3 separate regions of the Homo sapiens genome follow, and regions 1 and 2 are each linked to region 3. The links come from fine-mapping of genetic effects on plasma protein levels. A gene starts in region 3. Each other region holds a variant in brackets. All regions are shown on one strand. Distances are between the middles of the regions. Region 1 holds the start of SGK3 (serum/glucocorticoid regulated kinase family member 3). Region 2 overlaps LOC102724687 (a long non-coding RNA gene). Region 3 holds the start of CRH (corticotropin releasing hormone).

The links. PIP is the posterior inclusion probability: the model's chance that the variant is causal. Protein levels are from antibody-based Olink assays in UK Biobank. Linkage for the fine-mapping came from a reference panel and not from the study's own genotypes, which makes the PIPs less certain.
Region 1: its variant is fine-mapped to the plasma level of the CRH protein (UK Biobank, PIP above 0.99).
Region 2: its variant is fine-mapped to the plasma level of the CRH protein (UK Biobank, PIP above 0.99).

What each region holds. Positions count from the first base shown.
Region 1 is chr8:66,703,589-66,714,108 of GRCh38, forward strand. The region is part of intron 3 of C8orf44-SGK3 (C8orf44-SGK3 readthrough); the gene reads left to right. It overlaps SGK3 (serum/glucocorticoid regulated kinase family member 3), which reads left to right and starts at 9,193. Exons shown (of 17, transcript NM_001033578.3): 1 at 9,193-9,245. RefSeq lists a silencer at 8,902-9,371. The variant G/A (reference allele first, on the strand shown) is at 6,842.
Region 2 is chr8:66,216,417-66,227,325 of GRCh38, forward strand. It overlaps LOC102724687 (a long non-coding RNA gene), which reads right to left. Exons shown (of 5, transcript XR_929013.3): 3 at 4,608-4,792. Among named protein-coding and RNA genes, the nearest start is that of LINC00967, 30 kb to the left of the region's middle. The variant C/T (reference allele first, on the strand shown) is at 5,047.
Region 3 is chr8:66,175,266-66,186,057 of GRCh38, forward strand. It overlaps CRH (corticotropin releasing hormone), which reads right to left and starts at 3,199. Exons shown (of 2, transcript NM_000756.4): 1 at 3,028-3,199; 2 at 1,111-2,226. The coding sequence starts at 2,212. The coding sequence ends at 1,622. TRIM55 (tripartite motif containing 55) reads left to right here. Exons shown (of 10, transcript NM_184085.2): 10 at 1-220. It overlaps LOC112268029 (a long non-coding RNA gene), which reads right to left. Exons shown (of 4, transcript XR_002956713.2): 2 at 7,626-7,726; 3 at 6,558-6,616; 4 at 4,621-4,695. LOC124901954 (a long non-coding RNA gene) reads left to right here and starts at 10,251. Exons shown (of 2, transcript XR_007060948.1): 1 at 10,251-10,792. RefSeq lists an enhancer at 2,085-2,154.

The DNA.
Region 1 (10,520 bases), 530 kb after region 3:
CCTGTAATCCCAGCACTTTGGGAGGCCGAGGCGGGTGGATCATGAGGTCAGGAGATCGAGACCATCCTGGCTAACAAGGTGAAACCCCGTCTCTACTAAAAATACAAAAAATTAGCCGGGCGCGGTGGCGGGCGCCTGTAGTCCCAGCTACTCGGGAGGCTGAGGCAGGAGAATGGCGTGAATCCGGGAAGCGGAGCTTGCAGTGAGCCGAGATTGCGCCACTGCAGTCCGCAGTCCGGCCTGGGCGACAGAGCGAGACTCCGTCTCAAAAAAAAAAAAAAAAAAAAAAGAGTGTCAACTGGCCAGGTGCGGTGGCTCACGTCTGTACCCCCAGCATTTTGGGAGGCCAAGGTAGGCGGATCACCTGAGGTCAGGAGTTTGAGGCCAGCCTGGCCACCATAGTGAAACCCTGCGTCTATTAAAAATACAAAAATTAGCTGGATATGGTGGCAGGTGCCTGTATTCCCAGCTACTTGCGAGGCTGAGGCAGGAGAATTGCTTGAACCCAGGAGGTGGAGGTTGAAGTGAGCTGAGATCGCACCACTGCACTCCATGATACTAAGGACTCACTTGATCCTTTATAGAGTTCCATGTCTCATACTGGGCATCTCCTCTAAAATCTAAAGAAAACATGGAGAATTTGGGAAAAACTCCTATGAGAGTCATAAAATATTTTTTAAAATGACAGAAAAAGTTAAAAGAGCTGGGGTTGTTTATCTTAGAAAACTCAGGGGAATTTAAGAGTCTTCTTGCGTATGAAGAGTTATAATTCCTTAAGGTCTACTTAAGTCTTTGACACATCTGGCTGGGCCAGACACAGATTCCTTAGAGAATTTGTTAAGGAAATAACAGCAATGCACCTCTTTATGCCAGAAGCTATTAAGCCCTTGCATTTGAAATAGGTTCAATCATTAATTGCACATAATAGAAGTAAATAACTGAGTCACCAAATGAACAGTGTTTAAGAAAAGCTATTATTCCCCACTGATAAGCAACTAAAATAATAGTTATCTTCAAAGTCCACCTAGCAGGTTTAGTCCACCTACCCTAATATGATCCCCTGGACGTAGAAACTGCTGACACGACTTATGTAAATAAATTATTGTCAACTATTAACAGACTTTTATTTTATGTACATAATAGACTAAATGAGATACAGAAAAAAAGAGAAAAATGAATGATTTATATTTTATTCTTGACATTCATAAAAACAAGATTGGAAGACAATGAGATTTCCCTAATAGGAAAGTATAATAATATTATTTTAGATAATTAATGGTCTTAGGGAAATTTAAAATAATTTCTAGCTACTTTTTATCAAAAAGCTGATGCTAGCAGTTTAAGTGTTCTGATCTCCTAACACTTCCCCTTGATTTTTCTCATGAGTCTAATACAGAAAATGAGAAAGTCCTGTGATCTGAAAAGCCTTATATTTGATCCTAATGTAGTCTTGTTTTAAAATAGAGTTTCCTACCTGTTATGAAACATACTTGAACTTCAAGCATTTCAGTTTTGAGTTTGAATTGGCTAATTTGGCCCAAGAAATGACGTTCAGCTTTGGGCCTCCCACCTATACCCTACCCCACAAAATGAACACATGCTGAACCCTTTTCAAATCATAGAAACAAGTTAATTCTGCTCTGTGCTAAAGAGGCGTTAATTGCTCTCAATTTCAGTTCCCATGTGTATCTGAGGGTTTTTTTTTTTTTTTTTGAGAAGGAGTCTCACTCTGTCACCCAGGCTGGAGTGCAGTGGCGCGATCTCAGCTCACTGCAAGCTCCACCTCCCGAGTTCACACCATTCTCCTGGCTCAGCCTCCCAAGTACCTGGGACTACAGGCGCCTGCCACCACGCCCGGCTAATTTTTGTATTTTTAGTAAAGACGGGGTTTCACTGTGTTAGCCAGGATGGTCTTGATCTCCTGACCTCGTGATCCGCCCGCCTCGGCCTCCCAAAGTGCTGGGATTACAGGCATGAGCCACCGTGCCTGGCTAATTTTTGTATTTTTAGTAGAGACGGGGTTTCACTGTGTTGGCCAGGATGGTCTTGATCTCCTGACCTCGTGATCTGCCCGCCTCAGCCTCCCAAAGTGCTGGGATTACAGGCGTGAGCCACCGCGCCCGGCCCTTTTTTTTTTTTTTTTTTTTTTTTTTTTGAGACAGAGGCTTGCTCTGTCCCCCAAGTTGGAGTGCAGTGGCGCAATCTTGACTCACTGCAACCGCCCCCTCCCGGGTTCAAGTGATTCTCTTGCCTTAGCCTCCCAAGTAGCTGGGATTACAGGTGCACCATCACGCTCAGCTAATTTTTGTATTTTTAGTAGAGACAGGGTTTCACTATGTTGGCCAGGCTGGTCTCGAACTCCTGACCTCAAGTGATCCTCTCGCCTTGGCCTCCCAAAGTGCTGGGATTACAGGTATGAGCCACTGCACCTGGCCAACTGAGGGGTTTTTTTGTTTTTGTTTTTCAGACGGAGTTTTGCTCTTGTTGCCCAGGCTGGAGTGCAATGGCTCAATCTCAGCTCACTGCAACCTCCGCCTCCCGGGTTCAAGCGATTTTCCTGTCTCAGCCTCCCAAGTAGCTGGGATTACAGGCACATGCCACCATGCCGACTAATTTTTGTACTTTTTTTTTTTTTTTTTGAGACGGAGTCTTGCTTTGTCTCCCAGGCTGGGGTGCAGTGGCGCAATCTCGGCTCACTGCAAGCTCCACCTCCCGGGTTCACGCCATTCTCCTGCCTCAGCCTCCCGAGTAGCTGGGACTACAGGCGCCTGCCACGGCGCCCGACTAATTTTTTTGTATTTTTTAGTAGAGACGGGGTTTCACCGTGGTCTCGATCTCCTGACCTTGTGATCCACCTGCCTTGGCCTCCCAAAGTGCTGGGATTAGAGGCGTGAGCCACCACGCCCAGCCTAATTTTTGTATTTTTAGTAGAGACGGGGTTTCATCATATTGGTCAGGCTGGTCTCAAACTCCTGACCTCAGGTGATCCGCCTGCCATGACCTCCCAAAGTGCTGGGATTACAGGTGTAAGCCAGCGTGCTCGGCCACTGAGGGTTTTTTTGGTTGTTTTTTTTTGTTTTGTTTTTTGTTTTGAGATGGAGTCTCGCTCTGTTGCCCAGGCTGGAGTGCAGTGGCACGATCTTGGCTTACTGCAAGCTCCACCTCCCAGGTTCACGCCATTCTCCTGCCTCAGCCTCAAGAGTAGCTGGAACTACAGGTGCCCGCCACCACACCCGGCTAATTTTTTTGTATTTTTAGTAGAGACGGGGTTTCACCATGTTAGCCAGGATGGTCTCAATCTCCTGACCTCGTGATCCGCCCACCTAGGCCTCCCACAGTGCTGGGATTAAGGCGTGAGCCACCGTGCCCGGCCAGTTGTTTTTAAACAGAGGGTCTCCCTCTGTTGCCCATGCTGGACTGCAGTGGGGCAATCATAGCTCACTACAGGCTTGACCTCCTAAGCTTAAGTGATCCTCCCACCTCAGCCTCCCAAGTAGTTGGGACTACAGGTGTGCACCACCATACTCAGCTAATTTTTTTTTATAGAGACAAGGGGAGGGGTCTCACTTTGGTACCCAGGATGGTCTCAAACTCCTAGGATTAATGGATCCTCCCATGTCGGCCTCCCAAACTGCTGGGATTATAGGCGTAAGCCACCACTACTGGCCTGAGTTTTTCTAACTGTATCTTGGGTTGCTTTATGTTTTATTAAATTGTTTTGCTCAGAAAATTTAATAAATTAGTCAGCTGGGCATGGTGGCACACACCAGTAATCCCAGCACTTTGGGAGGCAAAGGTAGGAGGATGACTTGAGGCCAGCGGTTTGAGACCAGCCTGGGCAACATAGGGAGACCCTGTCTCTACAAAAATAAAAAATTAGCCAGGCGTGTTGGTGTGCACCTGTGGTGCTACTTGGGAGGCTGAGGTGGGAGGAGTGCTTGAGCCTTGGAGGTTGAGGCTGCAGTGAGCCATGGTTGTGTCACTGCACTCCAACCTGCGCAACAGAGTGAGACCCTGTCTCTAAAAAAAAAAGTGAGACCCAGTCAAAAAAAAAAAAAAAAAAGAGAGAGAGAGAGAGAAATTTAAAAAAAAAAAAAAGAAAATTTAGGCCAGGCTCGGTGGCTCACACCTGTAATCTCAACACTTCAGGAAGCTGAGGTGGGCGGATGAGTTGAGGTCAGGAGTTCAAGATCAGCCTGGCCAATATGGTGAAATCCTGTCTCCACTAAAAATACAAAAATTAGCCAGGTGTGGTGGTGTGTGCTTGTAGTCCCAGCTACCTGGGAGGCTGAGGCAGGAGAATTGCTTGAATCCAGGAGATGGAGGCTGCAGTGAGCCGAGATCACACCACTGCACTCCAGCCTGGGTGACACAGCAAAATTCCATCTCAAAAAAAAAAAAAAAAGAAAATTTAATAAATTAGTCACTTTTGTTTCCCCATATTTTTACCCATTTTTACAGCAAGGTTTTCCTTTTAATTATTACAATCTGAGCCAATTCATAGTTAGGATTATGTTTTTAACTATCTTCTCCACAAAAATGGTTTTCTTTTATTTGATACTGTGGGATGTTGTGATTAGAATGTCAGCTGATAAACATAGCTAGAAACTATAGCAACAACTTATGGTGTCTGACCCACTTAAGCATGTGAGTCTTCAGCAGAATGAGGGAAAAGATACCCTAAAAGCAATGCAAATAATATGAATCAAAACCATCCTTTGCGAGGCTGGGCGAGGTGGCTCACACCTGTAATCCTAGCATTTTTCAAGGCCGAGATAGGAAGATCACTTGATGCCAGGAGTTCAAGACCAGCCTGGGCAATATAGTGGGACCCTGACTCCAAAAAATTTTAAAAATTTGTTGAGGTGGTGGCGCAAGCCTGTAGTTCCAACAACTCAGGAGGTGGGAGGATGGCTTGAAAGCAGGGAGTCGAGGCTGCAGTGAGCCGAGCTCACGCCACTGCACTCCAGCCTGGTGGGTGACAGAATGAAATCCTGTCTCAAAAAACAAAACAAACCAAAAAAAGTATTTTGCTTTTGTAAGCATATAGTTGGTAGGATTATTCTTACCTCTCTAGACTTAATATTTTATCTGCTATAAAACAAGTATTCCTTTTTTTTTTTTTTTTTTTTGCTGGAGTTTCGCTTTGTTGCCCAGGCTGGAGTGCAGTGGTGAGATCTCGGCTCACTGCAACCTCCGCCTCCCGGGTTCAAGCGATTCTCCTGCCTCAGCCTCCTGAGTAGCTGGGGTTACAGGCACCCACCACCACATCTGGCTAATTTTGTATTTTAGTAGCTACAAGATTTCACCATGTTGGCAGGGCTGGTCTTGAACTCCTGACCTCAGGTGATCTGCCTGCCTCAGCCTCCCAAAGTGCTGGGATTACAGGCATGAGCCACGGTGCCTGGCAAAAAACAAGCATTCTAATGAATACCAGCCCTCACTAATGGAAGTGGTATTTCTTGTATTTTTATGCCCCTCACTTCTTCCAAGGTTCTGATAAAAGAACTACAAATAATAGAGGGCTTTATTATGATATAAAAAAGTAATAATGCTTCCACATAAGGCACCATTTTAGAGAAAAGGTTTCCCATTTTGAATAGTGGAGGATGAAAACCAAGCATTCATTTCATTGGAATATATGATCTAAAATAATCGTAATAACCACATTATGTGGCTGGGTAGTTGGGGTTTTTTTGTTTGTTTTTTGAGACGGAATCTCACACTGTCGCCCGGGGCTGGAGTGCAATGGCGTGATCTCAGCTCACTGCTACCTCCACCTCCCAGGTTCAAGTGATTCTCCTGCCTCAGCCTCCCAAGTAGCTGGGATTACAGGTGCCCACCACCACACCTGGCTAATTTTTTGTATTTTTAGTAGACACGGGGTTTCATTATGTTGGCCAGGCTGATCTCAAACTCCTGACCTCGTGATCCATCCGGCTTGACCTCCCAAAGTGCTGGGATTACAGGCGTGAGCCACCGCCAAAATTTCTAAAATCTGGCCATTTTAATACTATTACAAATAAAACATATATAATATTGGCATTTTAATATATGTTTTAGAGCTAATAATGATGAAGATAGCAGTCACTTGGTATTATGTTCCAGGCATTCTACTAAATTCATTTGATCCTCATAGCAATTTCATGAGATTAGCACTATTATCTCCGTTTTACTGAAGAGGAAAAAGCACTATTATCCCCAGGTTACTGATGAAACCGGTGCTCAGAGAAGTGAAACAATTTGCCCAAAGTAGGAAGTGGCAAACCAGGAGTTAAACCTGGGTCTGTCCAATTCCAAAGCTTGTGTTCAAAATCTCTACACTATAGATAAAACAGATGAACAAAATATTTGCTCTATCTGAATGAACAGAATCATATTTTCAAAGAAAGTATTGGGACCCATAGTCTGATAAAAAGCTCTATTTTTAAAATTTATTTACATGAAATATTTCATAAAGGTATAAACATCAGCTAGACATTTAGCTGAACATTCAACAACTTTTTTTTTTACAGTCTAAACTTGGAAACATAACAGAAAATGGGGATATAACCTATATCTCTATCAATAGGTGAACACAATTAATCAAAGTGATCAGCCTTAGCCAGGTGCGGTGGCTGAAGCCTGTAATCCCAGCACTTTGGGAGGCTGAAGCAGGTGGATCATTTGAGGTCAGGAGTTCAAGACCAGCCTGGCCAACATGGTGAAACCCTGTCTCTACTAAAAATACAAAAATTAGCCGGGCGTGGTGGCGCACACTTGTAATCCCAGCTACTGGGGAGGCTGAGGCAGGAGAATTGCTTGAGCCTGGGAGGCAGAGGTTGCGGTCAGCCGAGATCAC[G/A]CCACTGCACTCCAGTCTGGGTGACAGAGTGAGACCCTGTCTCAAAAAAAAAAAAAAAAACCAAAACAACAACAACAACAACAACAAAGTGATCAGCCTTAAAATTTGCCCTTAAAACCAATTTTAGACTGGGCATGGTGGCTCACGCCTGTAATCCCAGCACTTTGGGAGGCCAAGGCGGGTGGCTCACCTGAGGTCAGGCGTTCAAGACCATCCTGGCCAACATGGCGAAAATCTGTCTCTACTAAAGATACAAAACATTAGCTGGGCGTGGTGGCAGGCACCTGTAATCACAGCTACTCGGGAGGCTGACGCAGGAGAATCGCTTGAAACCGGAAGTTGGAGGAGGTTGGAATGACCTGAGATTGTGCCATTGCACTCCAGCCTGGGCAACAAAAGTGAGACTCCATCTCAAAAAAAAAAAAAAAAAAAAAAACTAATTTAATTACAGTGAAAAAGTCCTTAGTAGTTTGTGAATATATTTACCTCCTCTAGCTTTTTGCAAAATCTAGCTATTAAATTGCAGCTCTCAGATTGTAAAGGCAAAATGCCTAACATGTTGTCTGTTGATCAAATGAACCCAGCCTGGGCAACACAGTGAGACCGTCTCGTCTCAAAAAAAAAAAGAAAATACATAAAATGTTTGTGGGAGGTGATCTCTGTGTGTGTGTGTGTGTGTGTGTGTGTGTGTGTGTGTGTGTGTGTTCTTCACAATAGGACAAATTTATCTAGAAATGTAATGGTTCCCAGATGTTTATTTTTTTAAAAAGTCAAGATGTGGTGATAGCCAGGTATTTGTCTCTAAAGTGAGAATGATGTTATTCCACTTGGAGTTTATTGACACAGAACTTCCTTTTGTCTGAGAAATCTTCAGCACTGTGAATATGGCTTTAATTAAGAGATACACTCATCACTTGTTGATTTTGTTACAAGGGAAGAACTCCTCTAATGTATGTGGATTGCTTTGTGGACCACAGTAAAACATATAAAGGACCACCGGCAATGTATTGTTTTGTATCTACTGCATTCTTATATTCATTTCTGAAAACTACTGTTTAGAAAGTTCTGTAGGATTACTGAAGTACAAAAAGTATTTGGATTCACAATCCACTTTTTAAAGAGAGGCCACATTGTGGTTATTGACATTAAAAATGAATGTCCTAACCCATACTTGTGGGGCTAAATCTTTGAATATCATTTTAAAACATGAGGAAATGTCTTCTGAATTTAGGGAAGTCACACATAGATCCCAGTTCCTCTAATAACCTTTGGCAGTTTATTTGTTCATAGATTTGTGGCAAATTCTCTGGAATCATATGATCTAAAGTACAAATCATTGTCTCAAAATCTAAGGCATGATATGCACATGGGAATCTTTAAGTACTTGTCTGAGTCTATCTTCAAGTGATATCTGATAAGACCTAAATTACAGTAGTGTTGTGGGACGAAGAAAACAACCCACTCTACTTCAAAATCTTAACCACTTGACTCCACATCCATTGAACCATGTAATTCTTAGTTCTCCACTCAGCTTCTCTATCTGTTAAAAGAGATAAACAGATCTAAAACGCAGCTTCTGTAATTCAAGAATGAGTAATAAGGAGCTGTAAAGTGTGCACTCAGCTGACTTGGAGATTAATGGGAATAAAAAAAAGAGTCAGTAGATCTAAAAAGATGTGTGGAAAGGAAATTTCTCTGCACACAGGATCTGCCAATTTGTGAAAGTTCTCGACTGTTTATAAACACAAGGGCCGTAACTCTGCTAATGACAAAAGTGGAAAACTGTCCAAATAATGCTAAATGAATCACAGTTGTTCTCAATTATTTGGATATTTAATTCACTCCTCTGAGTTTCCAGTTTACACCAAGCCAACCCCCCCAACACCACGGGCCCACCCGGGGGGTCCTGATCCCTGCACACACCAGGTCATCTCTGTTGGGCCCCGGCGCTCTGGCCCGCGCCGGTCTTGGGCCCCAGGGTAGCGGCCACTGCGGGCGGAGCAGAGGGAAACACCAGAGTCTGTGACTCCAGACAGGACCCACTGTGTCCTCTTGAACTTTGCACAGCGCGTGACGGGGGCAGACGGTGCACCGTGGCCCGGCCTTTCGCGGGGGTCCTCGGGGAAGAGAGAGGAGCGCGGGTTTCCTCGGAGGCCTGAGCGGGACGCAGCCTGCAGCCCCTCCCCGCACGGGCTGCCCCCGGCCCGCCGCTCGCGCCGCTCTGCTGGGATCCGGCGCCTTCCCCGGCTGTCCTCGGCCTCCCGCGCGCTCCGCGGGAGGAGCCGCCAGCGGCCGTGACGCGTCAAGGAGGAAACGCCGGCGCCCGGCGGCCCTGCCGGGAAGGAGGAAGCGCAGTGCGTTCGGCTCCGCGCCCGCCGCGCCGGGAGCAGCACCGCGGGGCCAGGTAGGTGCGGGGCCGGCGGGAGGGTCCGCGCGCCCGGGACTCCGACGGCGGCCCGGGGCGGGAGGAGACGGGGCGGGGCGAGGGCTGCCCGGGCCTCGGCCGCTGCCTGTCCTCGGAAAAAGCCGTACCTCCGCCCAGCCCCCGGCTCCCGGAGAGTTTGTGGTCTTTGTTTCCACGAGGTGAATTCAGATCCTGCCTCGAGATTCCTAAACGCCCAAGGGGCGTCGGTGGCTGGACCTTGTTAACCCCCACGCAGCCGCCGAGCCTGGAGGAACTGGGAACGCCGAGCAGGGAGACCCTATCTGAGGTCGAAAGTGGGTGCAGGTCACCTGCGAGGGTCGGGGAGGGGGCAGCCGCCAGAGTGGGGTGGATGGAATCGTTTAACCTGTTGTCAGCGGATCTGTAGTAAAAGACCTTAATACGTTGCGTCTTTTAAGTTCTCTGTAATTTGAACCCTTACGTCTCTTCAAGTGAATCTGGCCCTATTAATTCTCACAGTTTTAGCTTTGGAATGTACCCACAAGAAGTGCTTTGAGATTTTTAGATTCTGTCATTTTTAGTCATCGTTACTTGGAAAGAGAAAAGAGAAAGGAATCATCTCTTGAAACTTAAAACGCTTTCATTGAGTTGTGCACAGTGACTTCTGAACCATGAGTAGAATTTCAGTCCTGCACCAGAGACTACTTAGTGTGCACTTGGGTGCAAAATAAATACAGAGCACTGTAATTTCTAAATCTTTTGTCAAAGTGAAAAATAGACTGTTGTGTATTTTGATTCTCTCCCTTCTCACCAGATTGAGACTTCACCCAGCCAATCTGGGAGGTGCCTTTTTTTATTTACCAAACACTTACATAGCCCTTACTATGCGCTGGGCTCTTTCTAAGTTCTTTATAAATATTAAATCAAATTCTTAACTTATCATATTATAGCGGTTCTAGCAATGAAGAGGCTATCCATACTTTAGTTCCCCAAATGTCATTGGAAGAGCTGTAAACATTAGAGGAAGTTTTAGGCATGTTTTAGCACCGGGTGTGCCTTCTGGTCCCCTTGGCTACCACTTCTGTAAGACAAGCCACCACCCCAGCATTTCCCTGGGGTAAGGGAGCCTGGAGCTCCTGGGAATGCGACCTGTTCAAAGCAGATGTTGGCCAGAACCTGAATGACTTGTGTAACATGGTCTCTTTCAACTGCCGTTGTGCCCATCGGCTAACTCTGGAGACACCAGAACTTCCCCTTCTTTAACTGCCACTGCATGGAGCCTACTTTTGTTTTTGA
Region 2 (10,909 bases), 41 kb after region 3:
TGTCTGTATTCCCTAAAGTCTATATCCTTCCTCCTAGCACAATGTCATACACATATCTCTCTTTTTTTTTTTTTTTTTTTTTTGAGACAGAGTCTTGCTCTGTCGCCCAGGCTGGAGTGCAGTGGTGTTATCTCGGCTCACTGCAAGCTCTGCCTCCCAGGTTCACGCCATTCTCCTGCCTCAGCCTCCCGAGTAGCTGGGACTACAGGTGCCCGCCACCACGTCCGGCTAATTTTTTTGTATTTTTAGTAGAGATGGGGTTTCACTGTGTTAGCCAGGATGATCTCGATCTCCTGACTTCATGAGCCGCCCGCCACAGCCTCCCTAAGTACTGGGATTACAGGCTTGAGCCACCGAGCCCAGCCATATCTCCCTTATTTTTCCAAAAAAGAATGACTGGATGGATGGATAGATGAAAGAAACATATATACATATGTGATAGGTAGATATACAGATGATTGAGAGAGAGATGTGAGTTTCTTCCTATACTTAATCCATTTGAAAGACAAGTATCTAGTTTTTCACAAATATTCACGATCTCAGTTATGGAAATCTCTGGGTTTCACCCGAATCAGTTTTCTGTGCAGGCATAGGCTTCTTGTGTATTTCATTATAACACAAATTTTCTTTTCAATTTCCACTAAAATTTTATCTCTCATTTGATGAGCAATTTTCATACTAGCTGAGACACCAGCTGAAACTGTTTTACAAAGTGTTTTTTCTTTATTTCTTTCTTTGGAGAGTATATGGTGAATTGCTTGTATTCATAGGACCAGGTCACTGCTGAATTTTACATTCTATTGTTTCATTTACCCCAGACTTTGGTTTTCTAGTTAAGAACTAAAACTGTCTTTGATCTCAACTTTCTGTTTACTTCTGTCAACAATACTTGGTCACCTTTCCTTTCAAATCTTTTGTGTGTTTTTTTTTTAAACACAGAAAAATCAGTTTTCTTTTACTTCACGAATACCACCATGAGATGTGGAGGCCTGGGCAGTCAGCTAGATGAACTCACTTAGCATCTTGACCTCAGACCAGTCTGGAAATATGACACCTCATGGCACTTGGTCCCTACTTGAGCCCCCATGACATAATGTCTCAACTTGCAAGTCACCTTCATACATATTTGTATTACTTGTCTCAGCATAAATGAAATGCTTCAGTAACAACCAAATCTCTTATGTATAACCATCTAAAGAGAGGTATCAATATTTCAAAACATTTTCTATAAAGTAAGATAGTGAGCAGATTTGGGGGTTTTGTTCTCCAACTTTTTTTCCAGTGTCTATTGGAGATAACACCATTCACTTTAAGCTTTAGAGATGAAGGAATATTTTTAATAAGGAGTGATGTCAAATAGTGTATGCTATAAAGTAGTATGTGTAACCCAAATACAGTATCCTTGCTTTCCAGTTTCTATTCAAGAGTTCAAAAACGAGCCTGTTGGATTTCTGAACTTGATTTTGAGGCTTGAGCATATAGAGTACTACTTGCTTTTCTGGAATTACTTGGCTTGAGTTACACCCTGTGAAATGTTCCAGGGATTGCTGTCTATTCATTTTGAATCTATCTAATTCTAAGATAAATCAGATAACACTAAAGATACTTCCTTTATTGCCCAGAAATAGATTGAGCTTCAATTTCAAGTCTGTTATTAAAACTGCAAATGCTTCCCCTAGGAAATCTTCTTCAAGATTGTCCTTGAAGAATGGAAGCTGCTCCTGGGCTGAGTATTCTTTTTTCTTCCTCGTTGGCCCTTGATCTTTCTGCTTTCATCTTGATCTCAGCCCAGCTTGTGCCTCATTAAAACCACCTCACTGTGGACTGATGAATGAAAAGGAAATCCGTGCCATATAAAAGAAACCCCTTCCTGACAATCCAGCACCATAAAAGACAAAATCTCTTCATTGATAACAATGCTAACATTGGGGCAACACTTGAGTGGATTTTCAAAGCCCTCAGTTCCATGGGCATTCTCTCCTTAGAGCTCTGAGGTTGGCAATTCTTACTGTGAAGTGGTGGCAATTATCCATCCAGACCTCTTGACTGTTGTGAGACAATCCTAGGACCTCCATTCAGGGCATTAGATGTAACTAAGCTTCTAATTATCACATTATGCAGCCTGGAAATAAATTGAAATCTGAGATTTCATTCAATTAAGAAAAGGCACCCGGAGTCCACTTAGCGATGCAGTGCCGACTAGAGCTGCTCATGGCTGACCCAGCTGTACCTAAATGGCGATGTGGCTTCTCCACCATGCTCACACTTTACGGTGATTGCTTTGCCCAAATCAATTGGGCAGCAGTGTGTCCGTTATTAAGAGACCTGTATAAGTCCATCCTTTTCACAAAACAGACACTCTCACATAATCATTGAGGGGTGTAAGCATCATTTGAGTTTACAGCAGTTTTCCCAATGTCAGATGTCAGAATGCCCTAAGGTGCCTGTTAAAATATCCTACTCCAGACCCACCAAAGCAAATTTTCCAGGAGATTCTTATGCTCAGGAATGTATGGGAAACACCAGTTTCATAGCAATCTTTATCTTAAAAATGGGTGCAAAACCACAATTCACTTTTATCCCAAACATTTATGAGGTGAATAATGTATCCTTTCTGCAATATTCTCTGGCAGATACAAAGAGAAATTAAATAATAAATCAATAATAAAATACATCCATGTTATGTACCAGGTGCTTTGTATAGTCATCTCCAGATTTTCACAACAAATATATGAGGTTAATTGTAGTTTCCCATCTTACGGATAAGAAACTGAGGCTGAGAAAGAATAAGTCACTTGCTTAGTTGCATAGCTGGTAAATGGTGGAACCCCAGTCATTCCAGCTCCTCATCCCATGTGCCAATCATTACTTTCCTGGTTTCCCTTTCTCCTCGAGCAAGATAAGATGTGTGCTTGGAGCACAATACAAGACAAAATGTGTGTGGGCCCCGTGAGGCTGGAAATGCCAAGTTCTAACAGCGCTAAGCGAAGAACTGTTGATGTAGTCTCCATCGAGTCAGAAAGACTTCAAGAAGGAAGCAAAGGGGTCAGGTAAGATGAGGTAGGTGGGAAGAAGGGAGTGTTATAGGGAGGAGGAAGGGCAATAGGGAAAAGAGGATATTGCTTTTTAAAAACAATAACCATAAGCATTTATTAAGCACTGAAATGCCAGGCAGTTTCTCTGTGCTTTAAATGTGTTCTCACGTTTAGTTTAATGCTCACATCAGCCTAGTGAGAGCAGGGACTCAAAGCCCCCTTTCGACTTTTTTAAGTCCGTTGTCACAGAGAACAACTAAAGTTCTGTCCACTTCTTTCCTTCCCTCCCCTTGTCCCTTGTGAGGAAATTCACACTCCAGTCAGGAAATTCACACAGAGTGAACCTTCTGCAGACAGGCCAGCTGGTGCTGGGAGAGGGCCCAGTCCAAACGTTGGGAACCCCAGAGAAAGCTTTATTTCATGTTGCTAAGCAAATGCTGAAGTATGTGGAGCTTAGGTAAACCACTTGAAGTGAACTAAATTGTTCATAATAATTAAATGTTCCGGGCTCTTCAGAAAGTTCCACGGCCATTAGTCATGTTCTTTGATCCATGAACTTGCTCTCCTCAGAATGTGAATCAGAGGTGAGGCCCCTTTGTGTGTGACACTGAAGGGCCCTGAGACAGGGGTGGGTGCGGGTGACGGGGGTGGTGGGTTAAGCATGGCCAGCGCTGCTCAGAGAGACAGGACCATTTCTCGGCTTTGTAACTGTCTTTAATGTTCTTTTTAAAAACTTTACACTAAGAATTGCACAGAACTGGGGACTGGACTTAAAATGATTGAATTTGGTCTCCCTCCAGTGCCCCATCCTTCCCTTCCCTGGCACCCAGCATCTTTATGCCCCAGGCACCAACGCTGTCAGGGGAACCTGACCCAGGAGGCAGACTTGTCATGTGCTGCAGCTGATATTCTTCCTCTCTCACTTCCTTGCAATCTCTTATCAAAACTCACCAGCATAGAGTCCCATTCCATCACTGCTAAAGGATAATGATGAGAAAGGAACAAACTGTCCCTGTTCTAGGAGGCACATCACAGGTGCTCTTCAAAAATTAACTCTTCCAATATTCACCATAACTTTAGGAGTAAGAAATATTTTAATTGATGAGGAAAATAAGGAGGGGTTGAGTGATGGAAGTTTATGTTGTTAATAAGCGACAGAGACAAGATATGAATCCAGGACCAAGTCAAAAGTCAATCATTTTCTACTGTACATGAGTTAGTTTGGGTCCTTGGAGAAGCAGATGCAGAGTCAGGATTAAACATGTAAATGATTTACTGGGGAGCCCATGTTAAGGAAAGGGGAGGGAGCAGGAGCAGGCAAGGAGATCCTGCAGGTGGAAATGCAGGTCTGGCCCCTGTGAAGGAGAGAGAAAAGGGCAGGGATGGGCTGGGAGACCGTTAGCCACAGCACAGTTCCTAGAAAGGTTAGGCCAGCTGATGGGGAGCCCTGAGCCAAAGTTGCCTGTTGGAAGAGTCCTACATCTCTAGAGAGATCTAGAGGTCTTTAAGAGCATTAGGACCATGCCATGCTCAGCCCTGGGCTGGGAGCAGCCTGGGGGATGTTGGCCTCACTGTGAACAGGTGGTAGATCCAGACAGGAGCTGCTGGGCTGTCAGTCAATGTTCTCTGCAGCAGGAGATCCGAGGTCTGAGTTGTGCCTCTTCATGGCCACCGCAGTCACAGTTACCCACACGGCAAGATCTACTTTACACAGATTCAGGAAGCAGCTCCTCCATGGATCCCATAGGTCACTCTTCCTGAGGAGAGATTTAGATGAGAGAGGTTAGGAATACGAACTACAGTGCTTCTTGTTAGTCCTGGGACCACATCTGGTTCTCATCCTCTGCCTCCTCCACTGTCCGTTCAAAAGTCCCTCATCCTCAGCTATCACCTAGGCAGGGCTCAGAGGACAGGGCTGTGACATGTGTCCATTCACAGTCGAAATGGGGCACAGGAGTATTAGTAGGTATCCAAGTGGATGCCCTGGGTTCTGGGTTATGCAAATTCTTCC[C/T]TGTCCCCATTGTATAGAAGCACCCTACCTCCTCCTGCTGACAGGGGCAGTGACGCCCAGCAGGATGGTGAGCCCTCTTCCCACCAGCTGGTCCTTCAACACAAGGAGTCCAAAGTGCCTTTGTGGCAATCTTAGCTTATAGTGCAATGGGACCCTTGTTGTGCCCTCTTGCAAGAGAACACCCCCCACTGGGAACTCCCAATTGTGAGAAAAGGAATCATAAAATCCCTGTGTACCTTTAGGAGTGATAAGTAGAGTCACTCCTGCTTTCACCTCTTGGTTCCAGACCCATGCATTCTTCCATAAGGAACACAGTGGCATATATAGGCCTCTGATTTAACGTATGCATGGCTACAGCCTGGAGGATGGCTCCCACTCTCCGAATGCTGCCTCCAAGCTGGCTTTTGAGCTATGCCTTTAGGAGGCCATTCCAGTCCTCCACAAGGCTGGCTGCTTCTGGATTGGATGTGTGATACATGGTCATGGGACCACTCCTGTACCCACAGCTAGTTCCCTGGTCAGGTGTTATATTGTGTGTGAGCCCATACCTGTGAATAGGATATTCTGTAAGTCCAGTGATCGTGCTAGCTGAGGGGCTGACATGGAGAGGCAAACCATGTCCAGAACAGGTGTCTATTCCTGTGATAATAAGTTGCCAACCCTTCGGGATAGGAGGGGCTCAATGTAGTTGGCTTGCCACAAGAGGCTATCTGTCCCCTCAAGGAATATTACCATAACAGGGGTTCAGTGTATTGTCTGTGGCTGACAGGTTGCACACTCAGGCAGCAGTAACTCCCATGCTAATTGGGACTCCCTGCTTCTGGGCCCAAACTCAACTTCCATCTCCTTCCCTCCGTGCATGTGCCCTTTCTGCCAGTTATGGTGGCTGATGGCAAAGGCTGCTAACCTCATCTGGCTGAGCCACTTTGTCTACTTGGTTATTCAAGTAACCAAGTAACCAGGTAAATGCTTTCTGGTGCATGCTACTATGTGATACAAATGTGTTCCCACATCAGTACATCCATTCCCATGCCTGTAGCCCAGACCTCCTTGTCTCCAGTCTCCCAGTTCTCCCCTTACCAGATGTCCAAGCCATTGGCCACTGCCCAAAAATCTACTTCTGTGATTTATATTATCATCCCCTACCTCAGAAGAGCACCATCAACAAGCCCTGTAGACTCAGATTTCCCAACAGACATGGTGACCACCGTGTCATCTGGGCCCTCTCTGGGAATATAATCCTCTGATCGGTCTCCTGGTCTTGCATAACACACCCACTCTAGCATACCTACTTGCCTGCGCTTTTTTATGCCTTCCTCTACTGTCTGCCGAGGAAACTCTTGTATTTTCACTTTGCTCAGCAAGGGCCATCACTCTTTCCAGGTTTCTATGAGCCACTCTAGCAATGAATTTGCCTCATCCCCCAGGGTGGTCACTAGTATTCAATCCCATGTCTCAACAAAGGTGCCCAAGAAAATGAGTTTTGTTAATCATACACTCCAGCCCCTTTGATCCAGCACCCTCAAAATCTATTTCCAGGAGTACTCCTCTGATAGCAGCTATATTCTAGCAAGTCCTGAAGCCTCTTCAGTGTATAATCTCTTTCCTCCTTCTCAAGCCCAGCAAGTTCTCAGCCAGATAATGCTGGGATTTAACCTGATGTTCACCTGGCAGCCAGGTGAGGACATGGGAGCAGCTCCTGTTGACCTGTGGAGGAGAGGTCTCTGCAGCCTCTCCCACAGAGGGGAAGCACTAGCTTGTTCTAAGAAAGGGTAGGTTGCCTTGGCAAACTCAGAGGATTTGGGGCAGTCTTCAGAGACCTCCACTTAGATGTCTCCCTTCCATATTCCAGGGCCCCAGGTTTTCTCATCCAGGGCCCTGACCTTAGCATAATGGACCTGCTCTGCAATTCTAAGTAACTGTCTAACTGATAGACGCTGCTCAGCTGTGTCCAGTGTCAACTGCAGGAGATGGGGGTCTCTTTGTTCACTGCCAAAGAGAACCTCTGGCTCTCACATTTAGCCTTTAACTGCTTGTCAAGGCCTCAGCTTCTCACTAGAAAGGCTCCCATCTCATCCTCTGCAGGGCATCAGGCAAATGAGTAGTAACCAGCCAACCCCACTGATCTTGCAGACATCTCCCCCTGCCCCTACAATTTTCAAACTCCTGAATCATTACTCCTGCAAGGTGGCTCTCATCACTGGGGAGTTTTCCAGGTTACCATGGGTAAAAAGTTTAGTATTTGGGCCTTCACTCTGTGCCAGAGATCACTCATTTTCTATCTATCACACAGGATGGTGCCCCCTTTGCCTTCCAGGCTGTGAGTAAGCCCATCTCACAACCTCGTTTTACCACCTGTCTTTTCACCCAACTCCTGACATCACTTGTGTTAGTTTGGGCCCTCCGGGGGTTAAGTATGCAAGAGGCTTGTTGGAGGAAGTGCCTGTGAAGGATAAAGGGGAGGGAGCAGGAAGAGGCAGGCAGAGCCTTCAGGCCACAATGCAGGTTGAATTCCTGCGAAGGAGACCGGGAGGGAGGGGACTGGATAGGAAGAGTCTGGGACTGCAGCACAGTTCCTAGAAAAGCTCAGCCAGCTGATGCGGAGCCCTTGAATCAGAGTCGTGTGTCGGAGGAGTCTTGCATCTCTCAGGAATGGACCAGTAGTAATACCACCACCATGGTCAGTCACTAGCTGGGAGCAGTCCACAGGAAATGTGGCATAGGGGCAAACACAGTGGACAATCCAGAGTGTTAACTGCTGGGGGCATCAGCCAGTGATGCTCCCTACAGCAGAACTCAGCAGTGCATTTTCATGAGCACCTCAATAATACACTAATGCCCAGACTAAGTCTGGCTATGATGTTAAAGATAGATAAAACCTAGATAACATTCACATTTTGATAGCTATATATAAAAAAATTACAACAATAGAGAATAGAGGGATTTTAAGATGTATAGCAGGACCAATGGGAAAAAAATAATTTGGTGCAATTGAATCTCCCTTGGCCCTCCTCAAATCAGATCACATAGGAAGCTACTCTGTATGGTGCCATTTTTGAAGAAATACATGCCCTTGATAACCTTATAAAATGGAAATGATACCATTTTAGAATTCAAAGGAAGGTGGTTCAATTAGGGAGTTGGGAATGAAATGCTCAAAATAAAGTCATTTCTGCCTTCCTATCTTGGGCAGAGAGGTGAATAGCCTTACAGTTGAATGAAGCAATTTTTCCACCTGCATTTTTAATAGCCAGGGAAAGAGAATGGTGATGCCAGTCTGCAGAGACTCTTAAAATTGGAAGGGACCCAATAAATCATGTTCATTGTACATTGACCTCCTATTTAGCAGTAAAACCTGTGCAAGATTCTCACCCTCAATTCCTAAGGGGTTAATTGTCCTAGACTTGCATGCCTCCAGTGACAGGGACCTCACTGCTTCCCGAGATAGCCAATTTTGTGGTTAGACTGCTCTAGTTTTATAATGCTGCTTTCAAAAGTAATAGAATCAGCACTCTTTGCCACACTTGGCCATGTATTATCAAATATTATCTCACTCAGGGAGGGAGAATTTTTTTTTCTGTTTCATAAAAGGGGAGCCTGAGATTCAGAGTGACTAAGTGATTTGCTCAATGTCACACAACTGGAATTCAATTCCAAGCCCAGTTCTGTTCCTCCATCTCCCCGCAAACGCCTTAGAGTGTGCTTGAATCTGTCTCTAATTTTCACTTCTACTGATTCTAGTTCACACTCAGAAATCTCACAGTACAAGCCTACTCTTATCATACACATGATGTTCCTTCCAGTGTCTGGGTCAGTCCTTGCATTATACTGTATGTCATTTTAGTTTCCAGGTTAAATGCCCAATTTCAACTGTTTCTCAAATGCCTCATTCCCAGATATCCTCAGACAGTCTCACCCAGATGCATTTCAGGTTTCTAATATCCCTTTTAATGTGACACATCTTGAACTGAGCACATCCTCCAGGCATATTATGACTTGTGCGATGTGGAAACAAGCTATCACCTCTCTTTCCCCACACACTGTACTTCTGTTGATGCAATGACATCATGCTATTGACTCCAAAAACATATAAGCAATTAATGCCACTAAATCCTTTTTCACACAGGCAGCTATTAAATTGTATCTTCCTCATTCTGTACAGGTACAATGAGTTTTTTGAATCATATTCATTCTGCTTAACTTAAAAATGTTCCAAAAATATTGTTCCAGACTGTTAAAATTGATAGTTTTGGGGTTTTTTATTTGTTTGTTGTTGTTGTTGTTGTTGTTGTTTTTGAGACAGAGTTTTGCTGTTGTTGCCCAGGCTGGAGTGTAATGGCACAATCTTGGCTCACCGCAATCCCCGCCTCCTGGGTTCAAGCGATTCTCCTACCTCAGCCTCCCGATAGCTGGGGTTACAGGCATGTGCCACCATGCCCGGCAAATTTTGTATTTTTAGTAGAGATGGGGTTTCTCCATGTTGGTCAGGCTGGTCTCGAACTCTCGACCTCAGGTGATCCACCCGCCTCAGCCTCCCAAAGTGCTGGGATTACAAGTGTGAGCCACTGCGCCTGACCAAAATTGTTAGTCCTGTTAACATGATTTCAATGCCATTTTCAATTTCAATTGAAGATGACCTGATTTCAGATGCTACCAAATCACATCATCATCAATAAATTAGTATTTTTTGAGAGAGCCTGTCCCACTACCACATATTGCAGCGCCTACTAAAATGTGATATTTTTTAGGCCTGATACAGTGACTCATGCGTGTAATCACAGCACTTTGGGAGGCTGAGGCGGGTGGATCCCTTGAGGTCAGGAGTTCAAGACCAGCCTGGCCAACATAGCAAAACCCCGTCTCTACTAAAAATACAAAAATTAGCTGGGCATGGTGGCATGTGCCAGTAATCCCAACTACTTGGGAGGCTGAGGCACGAGAATCACTTGAGCCTGGGAGGCGGAGGTTGCAGTGAGCCAAGATCACGCCCACTGCACTTCAGCCTGGGCAATGCAGTGAAACTCCATCTCAAACAAAATGTAGTATCTTAGTCTATTTTATGCTATTAGATTAGAATACCACAGACTAGGTAATTTATAATGAACAGAAATTTATTTGGCTTGCAGTTCTGGAGGCTAGGAAGTCCGAGATCAAGGCATGACATCTGGTAAGGGCCTTCTCATTATGTCGTAGCATGGCAAAAGGCATCAAATGGCAAGAGAGCACAAAAGAAGGCCAACCTTAATTTTATAACAAACCCACTCCCACAACAACATTAATCTATTCGTGAGGACAGAGCCCTCATGACCTAATCACCCCTTAAAGGTCCTACCTCTTAATACTATCACAATTAGCCATTAAGTTTCAATACCTAAATTATGCAGGAGACACATTCAAACCACAGCATTCTACCCCCTCCCCCTTATGTGCTTCTCACATGCAAAATATACTCATTCCATCTTCATAACCCCAAAATCTTAACTTGTTCCAACATCATAAGTCCAAAGTCCAGTGTCTCATCTGAATCAGATATGGATGAGACTCAAGGCATGATTAATTCCAAGGCAAATTTCTCTTTAGCTGACAGTCTGTGAAATTAACAAGTTACACGCTTCCAAAATATAATAGTGGGACAGGCCTAGGATAGACATTCCCATTGCAAGAGGGAGAACTAGGAAAAAAGAGAGGGGCAACTAGTTCCAAATAAGTCCAAAACCCAACAGCAAAAACAACATTGAGTCTTAAAGCTGGAGAATAACCTCTTTGTCTCCATCTTCCCCATTCTGGACATGCTGGGGTGGGAGTTGGTCCCCCAAGGCCTCAGGCAGCTCCACCCTTATGGAACTCTGTGCCAGGAATCAAG
Region 3 (10,792 bases):
CTTCCAGCAAAAGCTGTCTACTTTCTCTTTTATTCACTGTGGCACCAATCTGGTAAATTGTAGAACAATTGCATGTGTTTAAATATATATACAAACATATCACACATTAAATATATATATATTTAAATCATGCTTTGTTAATATTTGTCCCACCATAATGCCTCCTTCAGAACATAAGTGTAACTTTATATGAACTCTTAAATAAATGATGTTTTTAAAAGCTTCGTCTTATAATGATTTATTCAATGTTCTGTATTATCTTATTCATCCATTAGTTAAGTGTATTTCAAGGGTCCCAGGATAAGATGCATCTTCATACAGACAAATTAATTTTGAAGTATTAAACATTTGATTGAATTGTTTAAAGCTATAACTAAACTACCAAAGGCAAATGCACTGTAAAACTAATTAAATGTGCTGTTCAGTTTTAGAAATGAACAAAGGTAGTTCCTGTTCCTAAGAATAAAAGTGATTAGGGTTGACATAAGCAAAAATGTGGAGGATATTTGTGTAATTATTAAAGTCAAAATGTTCTTCATAAGAAAATTTTCCTATGTGACATTTTATAATGACTAAATTTAGTCGTCTTAAGTGGAGATGCTATTAAGTTTCTCTTATTAGATGTAGTCATTGGAAAATAGCTTAGAAAAAATAGTTTTATGGTACCAAAGTAGTAGTTTGACAGAGTGAGTTTTTCTCATAGAAAAAGAATGCAGCATTTTGGCCATACAGTTTGGAGGAATTTCTAGCTTGACACTTCTCTCTTCCTCATCTTTTCCCCACTATCTCCAATTATTTCATATATTTTAATTGATCAGGGCTAAATGTTATTTCCATTATAAAATGATCTTCCCTTTTAGAATTACCATGTTTTAGAGCTGCTGGGAGCAACTTCCTGAATTATTAACTCAACCTCAGAGAAGTAGTCCATGGCACAGAGATGAGCCCAACGTGATTGCAGGGTCTGTGTAAGCCACTGACATATGTTTGCATTTTTAGTGGAAAAATATAATGCAGGAAGTTTTGCTTTTCTTTTCTGGTGCTGAAGACAATTTGGAGGAAGCTAAGAGAGTATTTCCAGTGTATGAGCACTGAAGAGAAACAGTAAAGTCATGATTACCTTTGCAACTTTTATTAAAAATATAAGTATTCAACATTCTCTTACACAACCAAACTGACCAAGGACTGGAAAGATGTTTTATTACTGAAACGTTTACAAGAGAAAGTTGTTTCAAAGAGCTTACAGATTTAGTCTTACCCACCCAAGAGAATGGCATTCTCTTTGGCTCAGACCACAACAAAAACAATTGAGTGACTTCTGTCTGCTTTTTCAAACAAAACGTTTTCTCACAGGTCTACATTCTCTTTAAAACACCACTATAAACACCTGGAAACGGAAACTAAACGTAGACAAAACGAATAACATTGTGTTGCTGCTGCACGTGAATACACTTTGTGCATGCTAAGTAAGGGGTATAGGCTCTCTCCCTCTCTCCCTCTATGTTTCAAGCTATATAAAAATAAACAAATGGCATAAGAGCAGCGCTATGGTACAGAATACTGTATTTTTTTAAATTTTTTTTGTGCTAAATGCAGATTCTTTTTGGCCAAACGCACCGTTTTATTTCCCAATAATCTCCATGAGTTTCCTGTTGCTGTGAGCTTGCTGTGCTAACTGCTCGGCCCTGGCCATTTCCAAGACTTCCCGGAGGAGGTGGAAGGTGAGATCCAGGGAGATGGGAGGCTCCTCGGACCGCCTTTCTCTCTCCGGTGCCTCCTGGTGGCCGCCGAGGGCATTCCTAGCGCCGCGCTCCGCGAGAGCCGCGGGGCTGTCGAGCGAGCGCCGAGGCAGCAGCAGCTGCTGCAGCAACACGCGGAAAAAGTTGGCGGTCGCCTGTTCCGGCGAAGGGCGGCTGCCGCTGCCTCCGGCGAGGAGCGAGGAGGCGGGCGAAAGGGGAGCGGCCGGGCTCTTGTTGAGGTTCCCCAGGCGGAGGAAGTACTCCTCTCCCATGCGGAGCAGGACCGGCCGAGCCTGCGGCTGCTGGGGCTGCTCGGACTGCGGCGGCGGCTGGAAGAAATCCAAGGGCTGAGGGTGCTGCGGCGCCTGCCGAGCTCCCGGGACCGGCCCGCGGCTCAGGAGCGCCCTGCATGGCGGGCAGGGCAGGAGAGCCACCAGCAGGACTCCCGCGGACACAAGCAGCGGCAGCCGCATGTTAGGGGCACTCGCTGCGGCACAGAGGTGGGCGGAGGGCGGAATGAGAGAGGGGAAGAGAGAAAGAAAGAGTTGGTTAGAGTTCGCTCAGCTGGGAGGTGCACACGGGGTCTTCCTACGGGACTGCCTTAGACGTGCTGGGCTTTGGCCTCAGTGATTCGGATGGGCGCTGTCCGCGGTGCTGAAGCGCCTGGGGAGCGGGGAAAGGGGGCGCCTGCAGGGCTCCGCACCTAAGCTCATGCGCTCACCGGCCAGGAGTGACCCTTCTTTCTAGACTCTGAAAGGACGGTCCCTGCGTCCTCTTCCTAACGATCCTCAAAACTAATTTTCCCGATCCTAGAGAAGAGCCACAGATTTAAGATCCCACCCGCGCTGACTACCTCCCTTCCGGATATTTCAGCATTTTCTTCCAAATTGAGAACTACTGCCTCATGGTCCTCCCTCTCCACTTCTGCCCTTGCTGCCTTATCTCGGGGGTTAGGATAGAAGGGGGTGGGGGAGCTCCTTTACACAGCCAGCAAGGAGCAACTGGCAGCACGGGTAACGAAGAGCAGCCGTCTAAGTTTGCTTTTGCCACATCCCAGCTACTATTGTAATCTTAAGGAATAGTCCGCGAACACGCGCGCACACACACACGCACGCACGCGCGCATACACACACACACATACGCATACACACATGCATACACACACACACACGCACGCACACACATGCATACACACGTACACAGGCAGGGGCAGCCGGCTCCGCGGCGCACATCGCGGCAGCTCAGGCAACGCAAAGTTGGTGGCGTGTTCCGTCCAGGCGCTCCCTACCTTCCCAGGCGCTTCGCAGGTGAGCCGGGTGCTGCCGCCTCTCTGCAGAGAGACGTCTCCGGGGGCTTTCTCTGGAGGTTGTCTTCCTTTCTCTTTACTGTTCCCACTCTCTTTTTCTTTCTCTCCTCTCTTTCCCCTCAGTCTCTCAATGGACTTGGTCTCTGAGTTTCTCCACTCCAGAGCCTGGAGTGGGATTTTATAGTGTCGACCCTCTTCAAAAACCACGCAGCATTTGCCTAATAAGCTGACGCTCTCTTGACAGCTCGATTGCGTGCTGCCTCTGCTCCTGCATAAATCATAGGGCCCTGCCAAGGAACGAGGGGCAGAATTTTGCTATCTCAACACTGAATCTCACATCCAATTATATCAACAGATATTTATCGCCTCTTGGTGACGTCAACGAGCCCTAAAATGGAAGGGCTTCTTATGACTTGTCCATTGACAAAAATTCTTGAATGAGATTTCCCAAGTGTGAAAACATATTGACCTCTTACTATGAAAGGCCATATTAGGGGTGTGCAAAGAGACAGCGAATGGGAGGAGGAAGGGGAAGTGGGAAGGAAGTGAGGTGTCCCAGTGCAGCCCTGCCAGGAAAGCAGCAGCCAGTTGGAGGGGGTGGACCTGGATGCCCCTTCTCCTAACCTCCCTGACCAGGTGTCTCTGACAACACCTCAGTATCTGGAAATATCCCTTTGCTAGAGACAGAGTCCCACCATCTTTCTGCCTGGAAAAGAATGAAGCATCAGGAGAGGGGTGTGCAGGAACATCCAGCTTTTAAACGTCTATCTGCTTTTTCCTCCCAAGAGCAAGCACATAAAGGAGTTATGAGCCTGCAGAAGCAAGGCCAATAAATCTCTCAAAATGCAGTTCAAGTTTTTTAGATGATGACAAGAGCTACTCCCATAGTGAAGGGGCACAAACCGGGGTTAGTAAGGGGTGCGGCAAAGATTTTAGGTTATCTCAGAAACTCTCTGCTCCTTTTTTTGTCTCTCTTCTCACAATCTAAAATTAATTGTGGACTCCCTTTTCTATTCCCAAATTAAAGAGAGAGGCGGCCAGTGAGAGATGCATGAGTTAAACAAGCTTTACTTATTCTACTGAATGCAAACTCAATGAGAGGCATCCATTCTAACTTCCTAATCTATGTTGAAAAAGGCTTAAACTGCTTGACTACAGGGCTAAATTCATTAGTTACATGTTTTCATTGGTCAATATTGAGTCTGTAAAAAAAAACTCGTTCATTTCACCTCCAAATACTATCAACATCCATAATAGTATCCACATCTGGGCCACCCAGGGTGGTTCTTTTTAATTATTTCTTTTTCCAAATCCAAATGTGCTTCATGTCAGCCTGTTAAATAAATAAATGCTCTCTGACATGTCGCAGAATGGAATGGAATGCTAAGCCTGTAAAACTATATTCAATTTTTGATTAATTGACACTATCATATAGGTGGGAGGCAGTTACCTCTAATTCTGCAATTCAAAATGCAATTCCAAGTTCTTGTGCCTGTGATTCAATTCAGCTTCCAGATAACCATCAGAGTTGTTTATCGGAAATTTCCTGCTCCTCATTTCTGATTACTTCTGCTGCTTCCTTTGTAGCTAATGTGACAAATGATGCAATGCATATTTCAACTTCCATTTTGGGTCTATACCAATCCACAACTGCTCTTAGGAACAAAGGGAAGGCAGGGAGAGAAATGTTGACAGTTTGCAGAGAAGCCAGCCCATAGTTGGATCACTGCACCATGTTATGTACTTTTGACATAAGAGAACAGAGAGAATGTGCCTACTTGGAAAGATGTGAGTTGTTAATAGAAGATCATGATTATGGAAAATGGTTGAGTTTCTGGGAGAAAGCTGTGTTTTATATTGGTAGGAAAGCACACAGAACCTTAGATTTTGTTATTGTGGGCTTTTTTTTTTTTTATTAAGCTGGAATGGGTTCAACATTTTTGCTTACTTTCCTTTATGAACTGTTTTCTGACCCTGTTAGCAGATTTCAGCTTGGATGTCAATCTGGAGGTGAAACGTTGACTTGGAATAGGAAGTTTCAGTGCAGTAAATGGACACAGAAGATAAACTAGGAAAGGGATGTGGTTATGAGTTTAGCTGGGGAGGTCTGGGAGGTTCTTCCAGAGAAGACACAACAAGTTTTGGGCTCTGACTAAACCCATGCCCATACAAATCTCTCTCCCATTGGGCTATCTGGGGGATATTGTTTTAGTATAGCTCCCTCATCACTGTTGAGTCCTTGCTGTGAGGTTTTCTTGGGGTAAGTCATTAATAGAGCCAAAGTGGCTCCAACTAGGGAGTAAGGAAAAAAATGTTCCTGAACCCCAGAGGAAGAGAAGCTATGCACAGCCACAATTTATCTGTATTTGTCTGTTCTCACACTGCTAATAAAGACATACCTGAGACTGGGTAATTTATAAAGGAAAGCAGTTTAATGGACTCACATTTTCACATGGTAGGGGAGGCCTCACAATCATGGCAGAAGGCAATGGAGAAGCAAAGACACGTCTTACATGGTGGCAGGCAAGAGAGAGCATGTGAAAGAGAACTCCCCTTTCTAAAACCATCAGATCTGATGAGACTTATTTACTATCACAAGAACAGCATGGGAACAACCCACCCTTATGATTCAGTTACCTCCCACCAGGTCTCTCCCACAACACGTGGGAATTATGGGGGCTACAATTCAAGATGAGATTTGGGTGGGGACACAATCTAACCATATCATTATCCAAAATGTATATCTCATTAAATCACGCAGTTTTCACATTAGAAATGACTTAAAGAGATCACTTGGTTTAAATGAGAACCAGAGAAGTTAAGTGACTTACCTGAAGTCACTCAGCAAGTTAGTGGTAAAGTGAGAATTAGGAACCAGCTCTTTTGATTGCAAGCCCATATTATTTGCATAATGTAACAATAACCTTTGGACTTTCTTTTCCAGCAGAGGCACACAAACTGAGGTGAAAAGATGAATTTTAAAATATTTTAGAGCTAGAATCTCACTTTCTTGCCCAGGCTGAAGGCACTGTGATACTCACTGCAGCCTAGAACTCCAGGACTCAAGCGATCCTCAGACTCCTGAGCAGTTGGAATTATAGGCATCAATCACCATGCCTGGCCTGAGAAGATGCATTTAGATAAAGTAATATATTCACACACCAATTGTGGAGTAGCTTTTTATACATTTTCCTTATTTGATAAACTAAGGCATGAGAATGCAGAAATTCTCTGTGCATGCTCATGTCTGTGGCACCTGATTTTCAATCTGTGTGTGCATACATTGCAATTTACTTTTCAGTATTACCAAATTAAAAGCATTAATTTGATTATTCTGCCTAGGTGACCTTTGAAAAAAGTGATCTTTGGATACAGTATGGAGGGTGAAAGGGATTCTTAAAATTATAATATAGATCTATGATTTGAGAAATAACATAATGCAGATAACTTAAATGTGCTATAAACTAAATATCCAAATACATAGAAATCACCACTGACAGATCTGATCTTACATGTAAGAATAACTTCTGGAAAGGAGTCATTGGAGAATCAATTTCAATGCTTTTAGAACCTAAAAACACAATCCAAGAAACATGGGCACAAAAACAGGGATTACTTCATGTTTTAAATCATATTTTTCAATGGCTACATAATATACGGTATAGGTAAATTAAAACAGAGCCAACACAACAGTCTAATAAAGAAATATCAGAAATAATAGGTAACTAGTGGGCATATTTTTGTCACTTGTATCACCTTGTACCTTCACAAGCTTCTATTAGCACAGCTCGTGGTGAACAAACACCATCTCCAAGTTGGCTAACAGAAACATTTGTTGAAATGAATCTACTGTTTCCAATGAGAGCCTTCAGAAATGCCTAGGGTGGACAGGTGGTTTGGTAATTGTTTGTAACTGTTCTTTAGATAGATTAAGTAACTGCCTTCTGCTTCCACAGGAGGACTGAGGAAAGGCCCTCAAACAGCAAAATATCTAACTGCTTCACTGGCAACAATAACTTCTGTTAGTCTCTTCTGATTATCAAAGCCATATGTGCTCTTTGCAGAAAACTTAGAAAAATCAGAAAAGCATAAAGAATATAAAATTCCTCAGAATATCTGAATCTAAAGATCATCACAGATAATTAATATTTTGTTGTTTCCCTTGAGCATTTTTCCTGAGCTCATAATCATAATTTTGATAACACCATGTTCTTAATACTGAATCTCTGCTTAAAAAAAAAACTCTCATTTTAACATTTAAAATAATTGAGAGAGTAAATTTTAAATGTTCTCATCACCAGAAATTGGTAAGTAAGTGAGGTAATGGATATGTTGATAACTTGATTTAGCCATTCCACAATATACGCATATATCAAAACATGTCATACACCATAAACATATACAATTTTTATTTGTCAATTTACATTAATTAATTAATTCATTGCAAAATAATTTGTTGAAGAAATCTTCCCCAGATTCCTATATTAGGTTCAGCACCTGTGCTTCATATTTTCCTAATAGCATGAATGTCCTTCATTGTAAAGCTCACATTTTGTTATAGTTACTGGTACAATATGTACCTCCTTTGCTGGACAGTAAACTGTGTAGCAGGGCTTTGATCATCTTTGTAAGTTGCCATATCCATTTCTCTTGCCCCAAACATGGTAGATTTCCAGTAAGCCTGTTGAATGAATGAAATGCAGAAAATCTGTTGAATGAATGAAGTATAAAAATTACCCATAAACTGTACATATTATCCAGACATAACTAAATAACATTTTATAGTTAAAATTTTATAATCTACTTTTTTCCATTTAAAATTATATCTCAAGCATTTTCCTATATCCAAGTGAAATCCTTTTTTTATTGCATGGTATTGCATCAATATGTGCCAAATTTTCTATTCATTCTTCATTGTTGATCACTGCCCTAATGACCTGCTTTTTATTCTTTTTCATCTTACCCTTGCACTTTTAAGTAATATACCCACAGAATTATTTCTTGAGTCTTCAAATATAAACAATATCTCTTAACTCCCAGATTGTAAGATGAGATTATTTATCCCTTCAACTTTTCAGACACCCTCCTGCACCTTGATCTCTCAGTCTCTTTCATCTATACTTCTACTTCTAGATTGTCCGTTAATTATTTTTATAATCATAGTTAAATCTCCCATGCTTTTATGCTTTTACTATAATTGATTCTACACTTGATCTTAGCCAAAGGGCCAAGAAGCTCTAGATAGATATAGATAGACAGATGATGATAGATAGATAGATAGATAGATAGATAGATAGATAGATAGATAGATAGATTCTAAAAGTAGGAAGTCAATATAGTTTTTAATTATTGACTATGAAAGTTGTTCACTGAAGAATAAGATCATAGACTCTGATTACATTTCCTATCTTGTTTTTTTTTCTACAATTTTCAATTGACACTTTTATATTTTTTATAATCCCAGTTTGGTTTTTTCCTAGAATTACGAACTGCCTTAATTTTGTTCTCATATTTTTTCAAATTTTCAATCATGATAAGTAATCTATTAAGTCCTCCCCCTCTTTTTAAGACCTTGATCCTTGAGCATGCTAACCTGCTGCTTTCAAACTAGTTACTTTCTAAATCTGATGCATAGGTTTCTTCCTGGGACTTCTCTTTTCTTCTTCCCTGGATTGAATTCCCTGTCCGGAATCACAGGACTTTTTCCCTTTTGATTTCTGAATTTTATTTTGCTGGAGAACATCCTCCGGTAACTTTCTAGGAAAGGATGTATGAGAAGCATGTTTTCTGACTCCTTGCATTCCTGAAAATTGTTATATTTTACCCAGATATTTGAGTGATGCTTTACCAAGGTATATAATTTCAAGTTAAATATAATTCTCTTCTAGAACTTAAAGTATTATTCTCTTGTGTTGTATTATCCAGTGCTGCTGATAAGAAATCCAGTATCATTCTAATTTTCCTTTTATTTCTTTCTTTTTTTTTCATGGAGTCTCACTCTGCTGCCTACGCTGGACAGTGTAGTGGTGCGATCTCAAATCACTGCAATCTCTGCCTCCCAGGTTCAAGCGATTCTCCTACCTCAGCTTCCCAAGTAGCTGGGAATACAGGCATGTGCCACCATGCCTGGCTAATTTTTGTATTTTTAGTAGAGATGGAGTTTCACCATGTTGGCCAGGCTGGTCTTGAACTCATGACCTCAAGTGATCCACCCACCTCAGCCTCCCAAAGTGCTGGGATTACAGGAGTGAGCCACCATGCCCAGCCTGATTCTCATTTTTCATAGGACCTTTTTTCTTATTCTCTCTTGAAGCTTTTAGTCTCTTCTTTTTTTGTTGATGTTCTGAAATTTTAGAATGGTCTTTGGGTCTTTTTTTCATGTACTCATTTTAATTTTGAGGTTCTTACTCTTCAATGGTGAAAAAAACCTCCTGTATTATTTATATTATAATTTTTTCCATTTTCTCTATTCTTTCTTTTTAGGGATTTCTGTTATGAGATGTTCTCCCCTCTATTGGCCATCTGTGTTTACTATTTTCTGTCATGTTAGAACTTTTAGTTTGCGATTCTGCTTTCTAAGATATTCTTCAATATCTTCCAGCTCTTCAGTTACTTTCATTTTACAACTGTATATTCAACCTCCAGACTTTTTATTCTTTCTCCATTCCTTTTTAATAACTCCTGTTCTTGCTTTACAGTGGAATGTTCTCTCCTATTTCTTTAAGAATGTTAACTAGAAGGTTTCTAAGTTTTCTTTCTTTCCCTGAATTATCTCTTCCATCTGTGGTCATTTAAAAATCTTTATTTATCTTAATTTCTCAATTTTATGCTGGAGATCTTTGTGAAATCCCTGAAGGCGACCCTGTGTATGATTGGTAGCACCCTCATGTTTAATAATTATTCAGTACAAAGTTGATGAAGAACTCTATATGCAGGGTAAGGAGCCTGCTTCTCGCCAAGCAGCCTTCCTTCCAGGGTGATCACATGGTGAGCTAGTCTTTACTTGGGATACCCATGAATGTCATATTGTAGAGAATTCCTCTCTGTAGCCATTCAATTTTATTTAAGAAAAATGTATGTATTAGTTTTCTGAGTATGCCATAGCAAATACCAGACTGGATAACTTAAACAGCAGAAATTTATTTTCTCCCTTCTGGAGGCTAGAAGTCCAAGATCAAAGTGTCAACAGAGTTGCTTTCTTCCCAGGCCTCTCTCCTTGGCTTGTGGTTGGCCATCTTCTCCCTGTGCTTTCACACGGCCTTTCCTCTGTGCATGTCCCTGCTTCCATCTTCTCTGCCTACAAAGACATCAGCCATATTGTATTAGGGATAACCCATATGACCTAATTTAACCTTAATTACCTCTTTAAAGGCTCTGTTTCCAAATACAGTTACATTCTGAAATATGAGAAGTTAGGACTTCAACATGTGAATTTTTCTACATCTAGGAGACACATTTAGGCCAATAACAGTATACCTGGCAATGTTTATTTCTTTATTTGCTTGTTGCCTAACAGGCAGACATTTGAATGTCTGGCATTCTTCACATGGGATGAGAAAAGTTGGTGGAGAGGTTGACTCTTCCATATATAAACTTTCAGGTATTCTCCGTATTTTTGACCCTTTTCTCACTCCTGTCTTTGGCGAGACTTGGAGGTTCTGAGCCTTGAGCCCCTCCTAGGCTCTGCAGATGGACTCCTCCCTCAGCTGCCTGCCTCCTACAGCCTCTTCATCTGCATTTTCCTCTG